4 linked regions of the Homo sapiens genome follow. The protein of the gene in region 2 interacts with the protein of the main gene of each other region in a pairwise test. Each region holds a gene or a part of one and is shown on either strand. Other genes may lie near its edges.

Evidence for each region.
Region 1: the proteins of AXIN1 (region 2) and FBXW11 interact in binary tests that used the Homo sapiens proteins (3 or more experiments, as listed by UniProt).
Region 3: the proteins of AXIN1 (region 2) and CSNK1E interact in binary tests that used the Homo sapiens proteins (3 or more experiments, as listed by UniProt).
Region 4: the proteins of AXIN1 (region 2) and GSK3A interact in binary tests that used the Homo sapiens proteins (3 or more experiments, as listed by UniProt).

The regions. Positions count from the first base shown.
Region 1 is NC_000005.10:171,995,800-172,000,865, forward strand, and holds part of FBXW11 (F-box/WD repeat-containing protein 11), read right to left. Parts: intron 1,253-5,066; exon of another isoform or gene 1,091-1,252; intron 1-1,090.
Region 2 is NC_000016.10:306,959-312,024, forward strand, and holds part of AXIN1 (axin-1), read right to left. Parts: intron 3,112-5,066; coding exon 3,015-3,111; intron 1,668-3,014; exon of another isoform or gene 1-1,667. UniProt on the Homo sapiens protein: Component of the beta-catenin destruction complex required for regulating CTNNB1 levels through phosphorylation and ubiquitination, and modulating Wnt-signaling.
Region 3 is NC_000022.11:38,289,352-38,294,160, forward strand, and holds the end of CSNK1E (casein kinase I), read right to left. Parts: coding exon 4,758-4,809; intron 3,969-4,757; coding exon 3,936-3,968; 3' UTR 3,904-3,935; intron 2,588-3,903; 3' UTR 1,340-2,587; downstream 1-1,339. Other genes in the region: TPTEP2-CSNK1E (casein kinase I), read right to left, coding at 3,936-3,968, 4,758-4,809.
Region 4 is NC_000019.10:42,235,264-42,240,329, forward strand, and holds part of GSK3A (glycogen synthase kinase-3 alpha), read right to left. Parts: intron 4,880-5,066; coding exon 4,692-4,879; intron 1,679-4,691; coding exon 1,595-1,678; intron 1,454-1,594; coding exon 1,343-1,453; intron 1-1,342. UniProt on the Homo sapiens protein: Constitutively active protein kinase that acts as a negative regulator in the hormonal control of glucose homeostasis, Wnt signaling and regulation of transcription factors and microtubules, by phosphorylating and inactivating glycogen synthase (GYS1 or GYS2), CTNNB1/beta-catenin, APC and AXIN1.

The sequences.
Region 1 (5,066 bases), on a different chromosome or scaffold from region 2:
GACCCACCATGTGTTCTTTGAGTGGAAACGTGTTGTAGAAAATCACACCTTGCTCTTGCAGACAGGCAATTTGAAAATCTAAAGGTTAAAGTACAAACTTCAGCAAGTGTAGTAAGACAGAAAGAGTCAGAGCTTTGAGGACACCTAAACCCAAGCTTAAAGCTTGGTTCTACCATTTACTAGCTGTATGACCTGAGTAACTGGCAGTTTATGCTTACGAGCTCCATTTCACTAGCTGTAAAATGCAGGTGAAGCATTGTGCCAATTAAGTAATATATGTAAAGTGCATACAAGGGTAACTGGCATGTAGCACTCGCTCTCAATAAGCAGTTGCTACAGTTAGTAAACCTCCCCAAGACGACCTGCCAAGAGACCTCAGAATAAAATATCACCACTTTACATGAAACCGCAAAAAATATTTTGACCAGGTATTAACTATTATATAAATCATGTGAGAATGCCTCAAAGTTACCATTTGTTTTCCATATTTTACAAGCTATTCCCTAAACAACATATGTCTCTGTTTACTGTATTTCCTATTAGACTATGAATAAAAACTATTTGGGCTTACAATAAAAATAACTGAGTTAGGCGTGGTGGCTCATGTCTGTAATCCCAACACTCTGGGAGGCCAAGGCAGGCAAATCATTCGAGCCCAGGAGTTCAAGACCAGTCTGGGCAACATGGTGAGACCCTGTCTCTACAAAAAAGAAATTAGCTGAGCATAGTGACATGTGCCTGTGGTCCCAGCTACCTGAGAGGCTAAGGCAGGAAGATCGTGTGAGGCCAAGAGGTCAAGGCTGCAGTAAGCCATGTTTGTGCCACTGCAGTCCAGCCTGGGCGACCTGATGTCTCAAAGATAATAATAACTGCACTTCTTACAGTAAAACAAAGTTTTTACCAGGAATTCAGACACATAGACCTTCACTGATCCACACTCAAACATGGCCAAACATGACACTACGCACAAACGTCTAATATTTCTCCCTTTCCCTATTAATGGACAAAATAAATAAGGGAAAATATTTTTCAAAATTTCTTTCAGCGAGTTGAGTTCCACAAAACAAAACAATACAGGGTAATTGCTTACCTGGAAAATATTTTGTACTTCAGATCCACCAATCCAGAATGAATGGGGGTTTTCCCTTTCAGACTAGTCTGAGAAAAGACAGCAGTCAAGCATCTTCCAAGATTCTTTCCGTTTACTGTATCCAGCTTTCTTCAACAAAATCCCAAACATGCACTTCGGTAACTGTTGAAAGACAGAAAGCAATCCATACACCCACCATGGCACCAGCGGCAAAGGACAGCCTCCAAGAAATGGAAGGAAGGGTCAATGGAATGGTGGATCTGAGGCACAGGAAAAAAGTTATAACCCCTGAGTCAGCTATTTGGCATAAAATGCCTGCAGCAGCATTCCTCACCTCTGTGTTGAAAGGATACAAAACTCGTAACAAATAATGGAACATCCCTAATGTTAATATTTACTCATGATAAACAGCATGCAACTTCCAAATGAGAGCAGCTAAAAAATACCTACCCTATCATCCATATAAATTGTCCTAGACCATTCAGCTACACTGAACTTCCTTATCCATTTTCTAAGACAGCTCCTCCACCATTAGAAAAATAGTTTGTCAGCCAAAAAGAATGATACGAGAGGGCTCAAATATCTACCATAAAGATATTTATTTACGTACCTAACAAAATGTTTTGGTTTGCTACATATAAGACATCATATCTACATATTACCCAAATCCTCTACCCTTAGCTAAAATATAGTGTGCTTCAAAACATATAACTGAAGACTGAACTTCTGACTCAGTAAAGGCCAGTCCCGTACAATGGCCAATGATCACGTAAACTGGGAAAAATCATAAAGAACGCTAATATACAATTTACTAGGTGACACCATTAAATATTAAGTCCTGTCCATATTATATCAATATTCTTTTTCTACCATATCAAATTAGACTGCAAATTCTAAACAAACTAAAAGGGAAAGAGAAAAAGCATTCAGCAGAACAACAAAGATAAAAACAAAAAGACTGAACTTACTCGAACATAAATTTGCTACTTCCACAATTGCTACATTATAGCCAAAATGCTCCTGCAGTAATTATAGTAATACCTACCTTATTGAAAAGCTACTAACTGGCCAAGCCCTTTACATTAATTACCCATATTTAATTCTCAAAAAAAGATGAGCAGAAAGAAGTAACCTATCCAAAGTCCCACATCTACTAGGTAGTAGAGCCCATGCCCTTTTCATGGAGCACTATGGACTCCACAGTTCAAGGGTCAGAAAGCCCATGATTTCTGAGAGAGGAGAAGAAATCAAGCTTTACTCTCAAAGGTCCTAAATTAATTAACATCAAAATGGAGAACAATGAAAATACAGAAGAGTAAATATTTCAGCCTACATGAATCAGTTGGGCCATCCTGAAAGGGTAATTCCCTAGATCTTGCCACTTAAAAAAGCATTTAATTAACAAAGAGCCATGCAATTCTACAGCCCATGATATTTTTTTCTTGTCTTTTTTTTTTTTTTTTTAAGTAGAGACAGGGTTTCACCATGTTGCCCAGGCTGGCCTCGAACTCCTAAGCTCAAGCGATCTGCCTACCTTGGCCTCCCAAAGGGCTGGGATTACAGGTGTGAGCCCCCATGCCCAGCCTAAAGCCCACAATATTAATGCTAAAACAAAACACATTATAGGCTGGGCTCGATGGCTCACACCTGTAGTCCCAACATTTTGGGAGGCCGAGGCGGGCAGATCACTTGAGGTCAGGAGTGTGAGGCCAGCCTGACCAACATGGTGAAACCCCATCTCTACTAAAAGTACAAAAATTAACCGGGCCTGGTGGCACATGCCTACAATCCCAGCTACTCGGGAGGCTGAGGAAGGAGAATCACTTGAACCCGGGAGACAGAGGCTGCAGTGAGCTGAGATCGTGCCACTGTACTCCAGCCTGGTTAACAGAGCAAGACTCCGTCTCAAAAAAAAAAAAAAAAAAAAGACTGTGGCAAGACATACTATAATGGTACTCAAGTAGTCTTTGTGTTTAGCAGCAAAGATTGTAACTGTGACAAAGAATCTCAAATCCAGCTGAACCCAAGTAATTTTTAAATTCTAAGATTTGTTGACAGTCCACAGGCAATGACTCTTAAAGATGTTCTGATTGTTCATATTGTAGGTAAGGCAATTAAAGTGACTGAAATACCGGTCTATGATTAACCTCGCCATAACAATCAGATGAAAATACCTTAAGACTCACAACTTTAAGGAGATCACAAAAGTAAAATCCCAAGCAAATAATGAGTTCTCAAGTTTTTCCCATTAAGTGGTATTACTCCTAAGCCTAAGAATAAACTGGAAACCCAATTTTGACAGAAGTAGCTAGGGAACTATGGCTAGTAGCGAACTGCTAAAACAGTATACTATGCTTTTCAAGGTACGACTATCCAAAATGCAAAACAAGTTATAGCAAAACACAACCACAGCAATTTGACTAACAGACTCATTTCTGGACCTCTTGAATCCTCAGGCTTTTCCCCTGTACTAGTGAGTTAATTTTTCTCCCTTCCCTTCAAAAAAAAAAAATATATATATATATACACACACATATATATTTCTTCAATCCCTAATTGTATATATATATTTCTTCAATCCCTAATTGCTGGCAGGCCTTATGCTAGTAATACAAAGATTAACAGATGCCAGGTGAGTAGTGTCAGGACTGAGTTCTTCCTGCCCCTCTGCCCCCTTTCTCTTTGAATCTATCATGTAGTCATTTCAGAGGGCCAAAATATATTTTATTGTTAGTTACCAAAACTGGTTCAATGTTCTCCAGTTAACTCCTAAAAAAATAAACATTAAAAATTACTCAAGTTCCTTTTTCACAATAGTAGAACCTCAGTCTTTCTTTTTCTTCTGTGGATCAGAGGCTTTTTACTATACAATGGTTTCCTACATTCAATATGCTTATATTTACACACCTCTCTATCACAAGCCAAAGAGCCAAAGCTTTTTTTTTTATTTTTCCTATTAATGTCCCAGTGTTTATACTTCACAGCTTTCCATTTTGTGAAGCTCTTCATTGTTAACTCAACCTGAGAGGGAATTTCCTAAAAACGCTTCCCGCTGACATCACAGAACTCTTCCATCTTTTAGTTTCATTAAAACACTAAGAACCAGGTAAGAGATACCCTACTGGATTGTCAGGTCTTCCTGGTCTGTCTCTCATTTGCCTACAAAGACAAACTTCCTCTTAAGCAATTGCGATCAGCAGAAACTAACCAAGGGTAACGAGCACATTCTTAACCAACACGTTTCTTCCCCCATTGTCATCTAATTCAATGAACAATACAACTCAGAAGAAAATCTTGTATGAATTCTCACTGCTTATTCTGTTAAGGTTAAAACCATCAGCTTTGATGATGGTAAGAATAAGAATTCAAAAACCACAATTTGGTCAGTCTAAACTAAACCGATCAAACATAAATCCCAATGCTCAATGTCAATATAAACTAATCACCAGTCTCTTTCTGTCAGGATACCAGGCATAAAAATAGGACTGGGTGGGTTCTCTCTGTAGTTACAGCATAGATCTAATTACGCCAAATTGGTAGTCATTGAAATAGTACCTCCCAGATTTTCCAAGACAGTATTGACTCTGCATGATTTCATTGTTTTTCCCAAAGATGGCTCATTAAATGTATGGCTAAAAGCAACTAAATGTTAGTCTTCTGTAAAGCCTCACAAATAAATACATGCGCAACTCAGGAGAAAGACCTTTTCCACACCATCGGTCTTGACTTCGCTTTAGGGTCCCTGTACTTGTGGGGAAAGTTAGTATGGTCAGCATTTGAAGAAAAGCAAGCCTCTGCAAAGTCCTTTCACACACATCTCTCATATAATCCTCCCAACAACTCAGACCAATACCTAAGTTTTCTTATTTATTTTTACATATAATCAAATCATACTGCAGAAAGGTTACCTTTCTTTATGTCACACAGCTAGCAAGCGACAGAGCTTGGATACAAACTCAGGTGTTTCACTTCAAAG
Region 2 (5,066 bases):
CTTTCCCGCTGCACCCGGGGCCTGGAGGCTGGGTGGCTGGGGGGCCATGCTGGCTTTTCCGTGCCCAGTGCTGGGCAAGGCGCAGACGTGGGAGTGGCACACACAGGAATGGGAGCTGCCAGCACTGCAGGGACCACGGCTGCTGTGTCTGCAGACAGCCAGAGGCGCAGACAGACGCGCTTATGGTCTGAACAGTCAGCACCACAGAGACCAAGGGCAGGATGAAAAGCCCATCATCAGGCCCAGAGAGCAGCACGGCTGAGGGGCCAACAGGAGCACTCATGCCGCCACGCGAGCTCCATAAAAAGACTCCAGGTGGCCTTGCAGGCTGCGTCACCACGGTTCTGAGAACAGCAAAACTGTCAGAGTCATCAGATTTACAGAGAATGGCAACCTCTCCAGCTTTAGAGGAACAGAAAAAAATATCATAAAGGAAAAAGCCAAGTAAATGAAAACGTGAAACTTCCAAGTAATTGTAAAGGCTAAAGATGAAGAGGCCCCTCCCCGCAGGGCACGCATTCTGGTACCAGATGCTGTAAAGCCACGGCCCCCAACCTTTTGGCACCAGGGACCAGTTTTGTAGAAGACAATTTTTCCATGGACAGTGGGGGCAGGGGGCTTTTCGGGATGAACCTGCTCCAACTCTGATGGGCAGGTGTTAAAGAGTCTCACAAGGTGCACACAGCCTGGGCCTCCGTGGGTGCAGCCACAACAGGGTTCTGCTCCTATGAGCGTCTAAGCTACTCCCCTCCTGCTGTCCCTGCTGCAGAGCCATGGACTCACCAGAGAAACGGCATAGCTTTTGCAAAACCAAGGCCCTCAACAGAGCAGAAGTGGGCAGTGCAACCACGGCACGTCCTGCTAGCTTATCGGCTTCCTGGGCCTCCCCCCGCCTCTGCTCACCACCATCCTCGGGTCCAGTTTCCCAGTAGCAGCAGTGAGCAGGCCCCGGGCAGCTGTGCCCGTGATGTGGGTTTCTCACTTGGGCCTCTGGCTGAGGGACCTCCCACCGAAGGTTCCAACCACAGCCCCACCTGACAGGCCACATGGACCTGATGCAGGTTCCTACAGAGCCTCCGATGAGGTTGTTTGCTGCAGACTGTTCACACAGAAACGCACACTGCGGCCCCCACCCCACCACACAAGGGCCCTCTGGGGGTGCGGAACGCAGCAGGGCCTGCTCCTGTCTGTGCCTGCCGCCTCTGTTGGCTTTCATCTTCCTGGCGACTCAAATGTGACCCTCCAGGACCTGAGGGCTCTGTGCTTCCCTCGGTTCTGGAAGGTTCTGACGACGACACCAGGGACTCGCCATAGGCATCCTCTTTTCTCTGTGTTGCATCCTGAGAGGTCTTTCCAGGTCCACGTTCCAGGCACCAACGCACTCCACAGCTTCTGTCCTTCCTGACCCTTCTGAGGGGAGGTTGTCTGCCTGATGCCCCCTCATCCAGAGTCTGTGGCATGCACTTTCTACACACGAAGACTCTGACCAGCACCCCAAAATCGGGGCACCCCTGTGGACAGAAGCCTCCCGCGGGCCTCAGCCCACTCAAGCCCCGTCCTCATGGGCACAGAGGGCTGTTCCGGGCCTGTGGTTGCTCAGCTGTCTTGTCTCTCGGGCCTCCGTCATCCCAGCGGCTCCGCGGGTTCTTGACGTTCAGGACCTGTGACTTGAAAATCAGAGGCCGGTGGCTGTGCAGGTGCCCTCGACTTGGGCTGTGACCTCATGATAGCCTTGGGCCATGCCTGGCAGGCAGGGCCCCAGATCTTCCACAGCACAAGCACGCACACACGCACGCACCCACACACAGCCTACAGTGTCAGCCACTTTTTGTTAAGTAGACACCATCAGTGCCTAGTTTTAGCCAAACCTGAGTCAAGGGTTGGCTGGCATCTTCTCAGAAGTGATAACAAACCAACATCCTTTCTTTTCAACCATAAAGAAATTCCTGACTTGGAAACTGATGTCTGCAGAAAAGCTAAAAGGCTAAGAAATCCTGACCAAGACTGTGTCAGTGCTCTCAAAATGCCTACTTCCCTGCACAGACACTCAGATGGTCACGTGGTTTAACCTCAGACACCGCGGCTAACAGTGCGTTGCGCAGTGGCTCACACCTGTAATCCCAGCACTTTGGGAGGCTGAAACGGGCGGATCACGAGGTCAGGAGATCGAGACCATCCTGGCTAATACGGTGAAACCCCATCTCTACTAAAAATACAAAAAATTAGCCGGGCGTGGTGGCAGGCGCCTGTACTCCCAGCTACTCGGGAGGCTGAGGCAGGAGAATGACGTGAACCCGGGAGGCAGAGCTTGCAGTGACAGCAAAACTCCTATCTCAAAAAAAAAAAAAGAAAACACTTTTCTCATCTTCCCGTAACATCTTTCCTGTTCAAAGTCAACCCATCAAAATAAGGAAAGATCATTAATCTGTTCATCAGCGCAGGAATGCTCTGTAGACGGAGTCAGGCTGTGCTGGGCTCCAGCTAGCACTCAGCTCCATGACCTACTGCCCAGCCAAGCCCCCATGCCCGAGACTGGGCAAAGGTGCCATTATTCTATGCAACAGCGAAAGCCAAGGCAGCTTTAAAGTCAAGACGTTTACCTGGAGACGACCACTGTTCAGCCACAAAAACACCAAGTTTTCCCCAAGGGCTGTGCAGGGGCCAGGCCTGGGCTCTGAGTCTTGAGAAAGGCTCAGAGCTCCCCCTCTTGAGGGGAAGCATCCACCTTCACAAGGCAAGACACTTCCTGCCACCAGGGAGGGTGTGGCCTTGGGGCATGGGGGCTCTTCTGAATGAACAGCTCCCTCTGGGCCCTAAATGCTGCCTGAGACTTGATGTCCCCTGCTGCCCTCAGGGACTGGCCACTTGCAGATGTTGCTGGGATCACACGCTTACGCCTAGAGGTAAGCCTGGCTCGTGGGAGGCCAGGCAAGTGCCTTTCCCGCGGACCAGTTCACCAGGCCCACGCTGAGCGGGGAGGACGATGGGCTGAGGACCGCAAAGCCGGTACTTACGGGAATGTGAGGTAGGGGCACCCGCCCATTGACCTGCACGCTCTCCTGCATCTCCCTGCGGTGCTGCTTACGGATCCTGTATGGGGGGATCCCATCCCTGTCCAGGAGAAAGAGGCAGCCGTTAACTCAGAGAGGAGCAGGAGGGCCAGCACCGTGCCAATAGAGCTCCTGGCCCCGACCGCCGGTCAGCAGGCAATGATGAGGACACCTGTGAGCCACCACCACTGAGACACGTGCACACAGGTGATGCAGGCACCCATGTGTGCACAGGGGAACATGTACACACAAAGGTTCACACGTGATGGTAAAGCCCAGGTGCCCAGCCACGCGTCTTCCTAGCTGGTATTTACTGGGCACCTCCACAAAGCCTCCTTGTGCCTGCCTGTTCTTTAGGGCCTGACAGCTAAGAGTGGTTTCTACATTTTTTTTTCTTCTTTTTTTTGAGATGGAGTCTCGCTCTGTCGCCCAGGCTGGAGTGCAGTGGCACAATCTCGGCTCACTGCAAGCTCCACCTCCCGGGTTCACGCTATTCTCCTGCCTCAGCCTCCTGAGTAGCTGGGACTACAGGTGCCCGCCACCACGCCCAGCTAATTTTTTTGTATTTTTAGTAGACACGGGGTTTCACTGTGTTAGCCAGGAGAGTCTCGATCTCCTGACCTCGTGATCCGCCCGCCTCGGCCTCGCAAAGTGCTGGGAGTAATTACAGGCGCAAGCCACGGCGCCCGGCCAAGGTTTCTACATTTTTAAAGGGTGGGGGAAGAATCTGTGACAGGGACTGCATGCGGCTGCAAAGCCTCACATATTCACTGCCAGCCCTGCACGGGAAACGTTTGCTGGCCCCTGCTTGTGGCCTAGACCACTGTGCAGTGTGCCTGCCTTGGAGGGCATTGCTAAATGGACCAAAAACATTTCAGGATTGCACAGTGGGCAGCCAGGACAACCAGTGCCCCACGGAAAGATAGGAGATGCCAAGGCTGCACACTCTGCTTCTCTCCAGGAGCTGGCAGGGCAGTGTGGTCTCTGAGGGAGGCACAAGGTAGCTCTTTAGCAACAGGTTTTCTTTTATTTTTTTCTTTTTGAGACGGAGTCTTGCTCTGTCGCCCAGGCTGGAGTGTAGTGGCGCGATCTCGGATCACTGCAAGCCGCTCCCGGGTTCACGCCATTCTCCTGCCTCAGCCTCCCGAGTAGCTGGGACTACAGGTGCCCGCCACCACGCCCGGCTAATTTTTTGTATTATTTAGTAGAGACGGGGTTTCACTGTGTTAACCACGATGGTCTCAATCTCCTGACCCCGTGATCCGCCTGCCTCGGCCTCCCAAACTGCTGGGATTACAGGCATGCGCCACCGCGCCCAGCCCGCAACAGGTTTTCTTTATGAACCCTTTAGAAGATCATTAAAACACGAAAGTCAGATTATACATGGTCTGAATAATTACCCCAGGGTTAAGATAACTCACGCACAACCATCCTTCATGAAAGCCCTCGCCCTCTCCCAGCTATTAGAAAAGCTGCCTTCGGGCTGGGCGCAGTGGCTCATGCCTGTCATCCCAGCACTGTGGGAGGCCGAGGCGGGCGGATCACGAGGTCAGGAGATCGAGACCATCCTGGCTAACACGGTGAAACCCCGTCTCTACTAAAAATACAAAAAATTAGCCAGGTGTGGTGGCGAGTGCCTGTAGTCCCAGCTACTCGGGAGGCTGAGGCAGGAGAATGGCGTGAACCCGGGAGGCGGAGGTTGCAGTGAGGCGAGATTGTGCCACTGCACTCCAGTCTGGGCAACAGAGCAAGACTACGTCTCAAAAAAGAAAAGGAAGAAAGAAAGAAAAGCTGCCTTCGGAAGCACGGCAGCTCCAGGGATCCGTGCCGCACCCAGGGGCCTCTCAGAGCTGCCAGGAGACACAGGACGACTGAAGAGAGCGCCCGACCCAGGGCTGCGTGGCAGACACGGCAACTCCTGAGGCATCCTCGGCTGTCACAGCACCACTGAGTGTTGTGGGCAATGGTGAGCCGAGTCCAGGTCTGGCTCAGCCACGGTGGGCGTCAGGAACAAGT
Region 3 (4,809 bases), on a different chromosome or scaffold from region 2:
ACCACTGCAGTCCAGCCTGGGTGACAGAGCAAGATCCTGTCTCAAAAACAAAACAAAACAAAAAAAAAAACAAAACTATACTTTTCACTGTAAAAGACAAAGACCAGCTCCTTATTATTTTCTCTCAGGGCCTCTAGTTGGTAACTTCCACTCGCTGTCTGGTGTCAGGTTGTCCATCCCAGAAGGTCCTAAAGTCCAGGGAGGCAGGGGAACTCTCTGCTGCATTCCCCCAGCACCTCATTCAACCAAGTGCGGGTGAACAAAATGGCTCTTCGCAGGCTGACCAATTGACCACTGACTCCTGGCTGCCACCCAGCCCCAAGGCCCAGGCTCTGCTTAGCACCTGCCATTCCAGGGCCTACTGGCATTTCCTGGCTTTGGTAACACACCTGATACCTGATGCCTGTAAAGGGGACCCACCTTTACTTGGGCCTCACACAGCAGGAAACCCTCCACCAGGCCGTGAGCCTGTGGGTCACTGGGTCTTGACGGCCAGCACTGGAAGGCGCCTTGACCTATGTCCAGGATTTCAAAACGCCCGAGGGGAACCTCCCAGGGCCCTCCATCCGCTTCCCAGGCAGACCTATCAGCCAGACAGCTTCCGTCTTGCCTCTGGGTTGAGACTGTGGCAATAATGGCTCTTCGGTTGACGAAAGGAAGTAAACTGTGTTGGGTAAATGCAGATGGACAGATTCTTTTCCAAGCTGGTGAGACCAAGGCAGGCGAGGCTGAGCGCTGCCCTTTTATCAAGGCTTGACTGAAGGACCTCATCCAGAGTCACTATCAGAGCTCGCTCCAGCACTCTCCTTCATGGAGCCCCAGGGTCAGCAGTGGAGAGGGTCAGAGCACCCCCACAACCCCCACAGCGAGATGACCTCGGCTCGTCTTGCCTCTGCCACCAGAGCTGTGACTGTGGGCAAGATATTTTACAGCAGGACCAGTTTCTTGTCCGAAGGCAGGGCTATTAACAGGACCTAACTCAGGATACTTGTGTGGATAAAATCATGTGTGAAGAGCTTTTAGGGCCTTGCTTCTCAAAGAGGGGCCCCAGGCCATCAGCACACCTGGAGTGTGCAGGGGGAAGCTCTCAGCCCCACCCCAGCCCTCTTTACAAGACCCCCGCGTGGCACCTGTGGCGTGGCACCTGTGTGCACTCGTGTTTTCAAAGCCCCCGGACATCCCAACCACAGCCCAAGTGTTCTGAAAGTGGCCCCAGCCACACCTGCCTTCAGGGCGAGGGCTTGTTCCTCACTGACTCCTGCTGCTCCCAGCAAGACCCACTTCCGGGTCTGCAGGGAGAGGCCCTAAGGGCACAGAGGTGGACAAAGGGCTGCCTGCATCACTTTATCTTTTCTACTTTATTACTTCAAATTAACAACCACGATAAAGCTCAAAAAAGTCCAATATTTACACAGGAAAAAAGTACAAAATTCCCCCCAAAGTTCTTCAGTTTTTTTTTTTTCAGTTTTTTAAATTACAAAGTAATAAAAAGCTTTGCTCTTTAATTAAAAAAAAAAAGGAAAAAGGGGAAACAGAGGTAAATAAATTAGGAAAACACACACACGGAGAAAACAAACAAAAATAAAATAAAATAAAAACAAAAAGGTGTTAACTAGGAAGGATGGGTTAATCCAAAACCCAGCCCTGACTCCAGGCTCCTCCTCAGAAAGGTGGAACCAGGGAGAGGGGGGACCCCAGGTGACTGTCAGGACCAGGGAAGTAATTTATAACTCAGAGCCAGATGCCTTCTGGAAGCAGTCTCCATGGATTCTGCCCTAAAACCAGGAATGGAAGATGGAGCTGCCACCGGCTGATGACGGGCTAGGGGGGGACCGGTGGCAGCGAGGACCCTCTGAGCTCTGAGGGATGCGGAGGTCACCGCCCACCCCCATGTCCTTGTTAGTAGACACAGGAGAACGGGAATTCGGGCTGGCAGGCGGGGCGGGCCGTGGCACCTGCTGTCTTGGGAAACACAGGTCAATACATCCACACACACACACACACACACACACGCAGGGGACGCCGGCCCCCACCACCTCCCCACCCACTCCATGGAGAGGCAGAGGAGGAGCCTGGAGGCCAGGGGGACAATGGAAAAGCCCAGCACGGGAAGTCAGCCACTGTCATCTCAGAGTGGGTGGGGCTGTGCGTATCTCCTGGATTCTGAGGCTCGGAAAACTCGGTGGGAACTGCCTTCAACTGACTACACCACTCCCTGATGATGCTTGAGGGCCGGCTTTGGCTCTGGGACCTGTCACTTCTCCGACACGGACCCGACCCGTTCCTCTCCAGGCAGGTGGTGGGTGGGGGCAGGAACAGGAGGCCGGGCAGGCCCTGGCGTCTGGCTCCTGTAGCCTGGTGTTGTCAGGGGAGCATCTGGCAGCCTGAAGGTTGGGGGCAGCGGGCACCACAAGGGGGCAAGAATCCTCAGTGCTGAGGGCATCTCATCTTCTTGCCATTGGCAAAGAAATCAAAGAAACAAACTCCATCGTCGGTTTTGTGCTGGGTTTTTTTGTTGTTCTTTTGAGTGGTTTATTTTTGCCTTTTTTTTTTTTTTTTTTTTTTTAAAGAAAATACAGTGAAGACACTAGAAGGGAGAAGGGAAAAGACAGGTGAGGTACACAGCTGTCTCTGGCTACTTTTTTTTTTTTTTGAGATGGAGTCTCGCTCTGTCCCCCAGGCTGGAGTGCAGTGGCACGATCTCGGCTCACTGCAACCTCCACCTCCCAGATTCAAGCAATTCTCCTGTCTCAGCGTCCCGAGTAGCTGAGATTACAGGTGTGTGCCACCACACCCGGCTAATTTTTGTGTTTTTAGTAGAGATGGGTTTTCACCATGTTGGCCAGGCTGGTCTCGAACTCCTGACCTCAAGTGACCCACCTGTCTGGGCCTCCCGAAGTGCTGGGATTACAGGTGCGAGCCACTGCACTTGGCCCCCCAAACTCCTGTCTTCTCGTCCCTTGGTCTATCTCCCTCTGGGCCCCAGAGCCTGGCTCAAGGCCCAGCACGCTAGGAGATCCATCTTCATGTGACAGAAACGGATTCTCTCCCTTCTCTGCCCTCCTGGTGAGCATCTCCCCACCCCACCCCCAAATATCTGCCCAGCCCGCCATGGACAGCTTGGTTCCTGGGCCTGAGATCCGAGGAAGGCCAGCCCTGTTCATGCCTCCACTCTCTTGTGTGGATGAATTTCTACAAAACAGACCACACACAGATTGTCCCAGTGTAAAGTTGAGTCCCCCGACGTGTCGGACTACTGCCTACAAATGGACACACGTTCCCCAGAGAGCTCAGATTATACCCTCGAGAAGCCCAAAGAACCCCTGCCGCCTCCCCTTCCCCAAGCCAGGCCCCAGAGTGGGGCGTTTCCATACCCCGCCTCAAGGCCTGGTACAGTCCGGGAAGAACCAGCAGGCTCACGCTGGCCAGAGGGCCTCTCTCAGTCCTACTACAGAGGCATAAAAAGGGCTCCTTTGCTTCCTCCACAGCCCTGTTGTGAGTCTTGTGCAGGAATTAACTTGCGTAACAGCCCAGAGGCTGAGACAGGGCTAATGCCGTGGGAGAGGTCAGAGTGTGAGCCCATGGCCCCGTCTCTGCTGGGAACCAACCTTCCAAAATATGTTAAGGCAGAAGGAGATAGAGACCTGGCCGAGGGCAGAAAAAGTTTTTCCAGCAGAAACTAATCCATGAGGGGTCAGGCCTGAGCATAGAAACCCTTGGCCCCAAGTCAGGCAGCCTCCGAGGTTTTAAACTACTTGAGGCCCCTTAGAGTTCTGGGGCGCCTGGTACCATCTGCCACTGCCACTGCCACCCACCCCTCCACAACACATTGGTCTCTTTCTGGGGCCCTGGGAGCTTCTAGGTCGGCTGGGCTGGCTGCATCTGCAGCAGTCATGGACTCACCTAAGCAAACACTGGTCCAATGGGGGCTCTCCTCACTTCCCGAGATGGTCAAATGGCACACTTGTCTTTTGAGGGTGGGGAGGGAGAGAGGGGGAGGGAGAGAGAGGGAGGTACAAGCTTCAAGTCAAGTCCCTTAGCCGCTGGCGATAGAGATTTGGCAAGTCTCTCCCCACTGAGGAGGTGTACCCCCACCCCCACCTCCAGGCAGCCCCTCAAGCTGAGGGAAGGCCTGTGTGATTCCAGTGACTCTAAGATGTCCCTGTCTGTAGCTAAGAATGTTGCCCAGGGAGGCAAACCTGCTACCTAAGTAGATGGCCAATGAGGGTTCTCTCGCAGGACTCCCTCCTCGCCCACAGGCAGGAGGACGAGGGCAGGGCTCCCACCCACCTCTGCCAGGCCACCTGCCCTGGGCAACTACAGATTCCCCCTTCCCAAGTGTCCCCATCCAAACATAGCCCCAAAGAGGATGGGACCTCACTGCCCCTACACCCCATGCTCTTGCCAATGCTCACAGGGGCTCCTGGGGGCTCCCTGATGTCAGGGAGCAGCAACACCTCATCTCTGAGCCCCTGCTGCCCACCCTGGCTGGGCCCCTGGCAGCGAGGACTGGAGCCCAGCTGTGCCACTTGCCAGGGAATGTTACTGCCCTGAGCCTTGGTGAATGACTTTGCTCAAGAGGGCTCATCAGACCTCAGAGGATTAAATGAGGCCAAGTCCTGGCTCTACAGAAGGGGTTCACTCCAAGGCAAGCAGCGTCGATGGAAAGGGAAGAACAGAGCCACGGCCTGACCTCCCACTGGGGGGTCTCTAACTCAGTTCTGAGGCCCAGAGGGACTGGCAGGGGGGCAGCTCACCTGTGAGGCTGGGATCCGGGAGACCTCTTGCCGCCCAGTGAGGTCTGAGGAG
Region 4 (5,066 bases), on a different chromosome or scaffold from region 2:
CAACCCTTGGCAGAAGCCTGATGAGTAAGGTACATCGGGAGGTTGTCATAAAACAGGCTAGGGAGCCAGGCACTCAGCTTCCCCCTCACCAAAACCACTGGCTCCTTAATCCGACAATCAAAACCACCCCTGAGCCTGCCCCCTCTCCAGCTCCATTTTCCTGCCACTCTCCCTCCCACTGACTAGAACAGAAGTACCGTGAGAGCAGGATTTTGAGTTTCAGTTACTGCTGCATCCCCCAGGGCCTAGACAGACCAGGTCCTGACATGGCTGCTTCCTAGGCCCCCTTCCTTTTATTCCAGTTCCCCTCGGCCAAAGATGCCACTTCCTTGCCCTGTGCTTGGTCTCCTCCAGGAAGCCTTCCTTGATCCTTCTCACCCACAAACCAGGCTGGGTGCTTCCTCCATTTCCAGAATTCCCTGTGCTCCTTCTGGTATGGCAGCAGCTAGTTCATTTAATAGTTTTCTGTGATGACGCCTTTCTACCCTACCAAACTGAGAGCTCTTCAAGGCCAAGGCCTGGGTCGCAGTCAGTGGTGCCTCTGGAATTCCTCAGCCCTGGGACCCGTATGCAGGCAGCCACAGGACAGATTCGCCAAACCAGAGAGCTCCCCTCCTGGGAAGTGAGGTCCAACAGCCACAACCACTGGTAGAGCCCACGTCGGCTCACCCGTGCTTGGTACGTAAAGCCAGCAGGAGCAGCAGCTGGGCCCCAAGTGACCTTCAGCAAACAAACCCACCCACCTCCTTCCAATGCAGTAGGCTGCTCCAGCCTGTTCGCCACATCATCCCTGGGCTGCAATCATTCATTCATTCATTCAAACACCTCCTGAAGGTCTGTAACACCCAGGGCACGATGCCAGGCACTGGGGAATGAGCCTGCACAGATGATGGACGGAGATGCATTCCTGGCTCTGTGGATGCTAACCTTCCTCCAGCCCTAACTCCTTCCCACCTACCCCCAGCCAAGGCTCTAAAGGCCCGAACTCTGGCCTCAGCAGCTGTCTCTGTGCAGTCCTGGTCCCCACCACCCCCTTATCCTGAGCTAACTCCAACATCTCTGGTGCCACTGGACTCCCTGTATGGACCTGAGCAACTACCTGGCAGCTTCTGCAACCCCAGGTGTCAGGCTGCCTTCCTGATTCAGTCAGGCCTTGCCTGCCTTGGCCCTCCCCTGTGTTAGGCGAGCTCCATCTCGGGGGGTTATGGGAACAACAGCAGGGGACATGGGGCCTCCAAAAACCAACATAAACTTGGCGGATGAGGGATCCCATAAAAGGCAGGAGGCTCCAGAGCCCCTGGCTTTGTGGGCCTGGGTCCCAGCAGCCCACCTGCTGGCCTACCTTGACATAGAGGATAGGGATGGTCAACTTGGCCTTGGTGAAGTGGCGGGCCACCCGGTACACTGTCTCGGGCACATATTCCAGCACCAGATTTAGGTAAAGCTCGTCTTTCTGCAGGGAGCAAAGGAGAGGTGTGAGGCACTGTGAGAAGAGTGAGGAGGGGGAAGGAAGGTATGCAGGGAGCAGTGGGGGAAAGGCAGGCAGGCAGGAAAATGGCTGGAGCAACCCACCACCACCACCTCGAGATCTCACCTTCTCGCCACTGGAGTAGAAAAAGTATCTCAGCCTCACAATATTGCAGTGGTCCAGCTTACGCATGATCTGCAGCTCTCGGTTCTTGAGGGCAAAGGGAGAGTCTCAGAATACAACCAACTCTCTCGGCTGCTCCTCCCTACTCACACTCACTCCCAACAACAGCCAGGCAGCTACTCCCTGTGTCCCAGCTCCAAGGTCCCCTGGAGTATCCCCCAATTCCTTGTCTCCAGACTATTCCCCTCCCACAGGAGCTGGAAGCCCACAGGTTAAACCCAGGCCACAGATGTGTTTTCTTCACCCCATTTTTTTTTTTTTTTGAGACAGAGTCTTGCTCTGTTGCCAGGCTGGCATGCAGTGGCTCAATATCGGCTCACTGCAACCTCTGCCTCCCTGGGTCAAGCAATTCTCCTGCCTCAGCCTTCCAAGTAGCTGGGATTACAGGCATGCACCACCACGCCCAGCTAATTTTTGTATTTTTAGTAGAGATGGGGTTTCACCACGTTAGCCAGGATGGTCTCGATCTCCTGACCTTGTGATCCACCTGCCTCAGCCTCCCTGACCTCATGATCCACAGGCCTCAGCCTCCCAAAGTGCTGGGATTACAGGCGTGAGGCACCGCGCCCAGCCACCCCACTTAAAAAAAAATTTTTTTTCAACTTATTGCTGACATGTAAAAGCCAAATGGCACCTTCTGATTTTTTTCTCCAAAATAAAGTTTTAAAAAGGATAGGCCAGGGCCAGGCGTGGTGGCTCACGCCTGTAATCCCAGCACTTTGGGAGGCTGAGGTGGGTGGATCACGAAGTCAGGAGATTGAGACCATCCTGGTTAACACGGTGAAACCCTGTCTCTACTAAAAATACAAAAAAAATTAGCCAAGCATGGTGGCAGGCACCTGTAGTCCCAGCTACTCGGGAGGCTGAGGCAGGAGAATGGCGTGAACCCAGGAGGCGGAGCTTGCAGTGAGCTGAGATCGCGCCACTGCACTCCAGCCTGGGCGACAGACTCTGTCTCAAAAAATAATAATAATAAATAAATAAATAAGATAAAATTTATTATTATTATTATTTTTAAAAGAACCTGGCTATGTTGGCCAGGTTGGTTTTGAACTCCTAGTCTCAGGCAATCCTCCTGCCTCGGGCTCTCCAAGTTCAAGGATTACAGGCATGAGCTACCATACCCAGCCTTAAAATAAAAATAAAATAAAAAACAGCTGGGCATGGTGGCTCACCCCTGTAATCCCAGCACTTTGGGAGGCCAAGGCAGGGAAATCACTTGAGGCCAGGAGTTCGAGACCAGCCTGGCCAACGTGGCAAAACCCCATCTCTACTAAAAATACAAAAAAATTAGCTGGGCATGGTGGCGCACGCCTGTGATTCCAACTACTCAGGTGGATGAGGTACAAGAATTGCTTGAACCCAGGAGGCAGAGGTTGCAGCGCTTGAACCCAGGAGGCAGAGGTTGCAGTGAGCCGACATCACACCACTGCACTCCAGCCTTAGTGACAGAACGAGATTCTGTCTTAAAAAAAAAAAAAAAAAAATAGAGACCATCCTGGCTAACTCGGTGAAACCCCGTCCCTACTAGAAATACAAAAAATTAGCCGAGAGTGGTGGCACACGCCTGTAGTCCCAGCTACTAGGGAGGCTGAGGCAGAAGAATCGCTTGAACCCGGCAGGCGGAGGTTGCAGTGACCCGAGATCACGCCACCACACTCCAGCCTGGGTGACAGCATGAGACTCCGTCTCAAAAAAAAAAAAAAAAAAAAAAAAAAGATTTCACATCTAAATCCAGTTTTCAGTTTGTCTTGAAAAATCAGGGCTAGGTATGCTGGCTCATGCCTGTAATACCAGCACTTTGGGAGGTCGAGGTGGGGGCGGATTACTTGAGGTCAGGAGTTCGAGACCAGCCTGGCCAACATGGCAAAACCCTGTCTCTACTAAAAATACAAAAAAAAAAAATTAGCCAGGCATAGTGGCCCATGCCTGCAATCCCAGCTACTCAGGTGGTTGAGGCACAAGAATCGCTTGAACCTGGGAGGCAGAGGTTGTAGCGGGCCAAGATCGTGCCACTGCACTCCAGCCTGGGTGACAGAGTAAGACTCCATCTCAAAAAAAAAAAATCAGGCATGGGCACATGAGGCTTGCCCCCCTACCTGGCACAAGCAACAACAGACAGGTAGTGGCCATCCAGCTCACTCTGGTCCCGTGGAAGCATCTGGGTCCTCGAACTCTATCTAGGATCCTGAGTCCCAGACTCCAGGCATTGGACTTTTCCCAGAATGCGGTCTCAGCATTCTTCCCCATTCTCTATTCCTCAGTGAGGCCTAGGAACTCCCTGCCCCTACATCCCTCTTACTTCTGGAACTCAACTCCAATCAAATTCTGACACCCTGGAGCTCCTCCTGCCCAAGGGCCCTCCCTGCCAAGACCGAGGCCCTGGTCTGGTTCCTTTCCAGTCTAGGCTCAGTTCTCCTACATCCAGACTAGTCTAAGCTCCAAATGCCAGGCCCTTAAACACCAATTATTCCTCAACTTCCACTTCCTCCATCTCCTTCTAGTTCCCTGAGCCTCTCCTAGCTCACAGGGCACCTCCATTCCATTCTGCGCTGGCCAAACACCTGGGAAGAGCGCGACCTTCAGAACCACCCGCGCTAGCCCTGCCAGGTCCCTTTCTCTCCTGGGAAGAAGTGTAACCAAATGGTTAAGGTAGAGGGTTTGGGAATCAGATTCCAGCCTTGACTGGGGCACTTGCTCTATGACCTCAGGCAATCCTCTTACCTGAGTTTGTTTCCCTGCTTTTAAACTTAGCTTACACTTAGAATGGGTATAACCACAGTACCTACCCTCAGAGAATCTTTATGTAAATTAAACAAGAATTTGCTTATTAAGCACTTACATTGAGCAAATGCCCAGTAAAAGCTCTGGGCTCTCCTGGGATCCACATTTCCCATCTTTCACAGGTCTCATTTCCTCTTTTCCCCCTTCTCTTCTGGCCCATGGCTCTGAAACCCAAGCCTCCAGCTCTCTGGCTCAGGTTCTCCCACCAGTCACACCCAGTCCCCAAACCTCCCTGTCCCCATCCCGCCCAAGCTACCTTGAACCTCTTGTCCTGGAGAACCTTCTTGATGGCGACTAGTTCCCTGGTCTCTGCCAGCCGTGCCTGGTACACGACCCCAAATGAGCCATTGCCAATCACTTTGATGTCCGTGTAAGCCACTTCTTGGGAGCGCTCTGGGCCTTGGCCTAGAGTGGCTACGACTGTGGTCACCTTCCCGCTGTCACCTGGGGAACAAAGGGGATACACGATCCACTGACCCATCCTGCCTGCGCATCACCCTATCCTGGGGCTGTGGGAGGAAGGGAAATCTCTGCAGGAAGCTCGTTGGGGACCTCTTTGTCCCCTCCTCCTCTTTGAGGAAAGGTGGATGCTGGGACCTTCCCAGTGACTTTTCCCCTCTTCCTTTCTGGG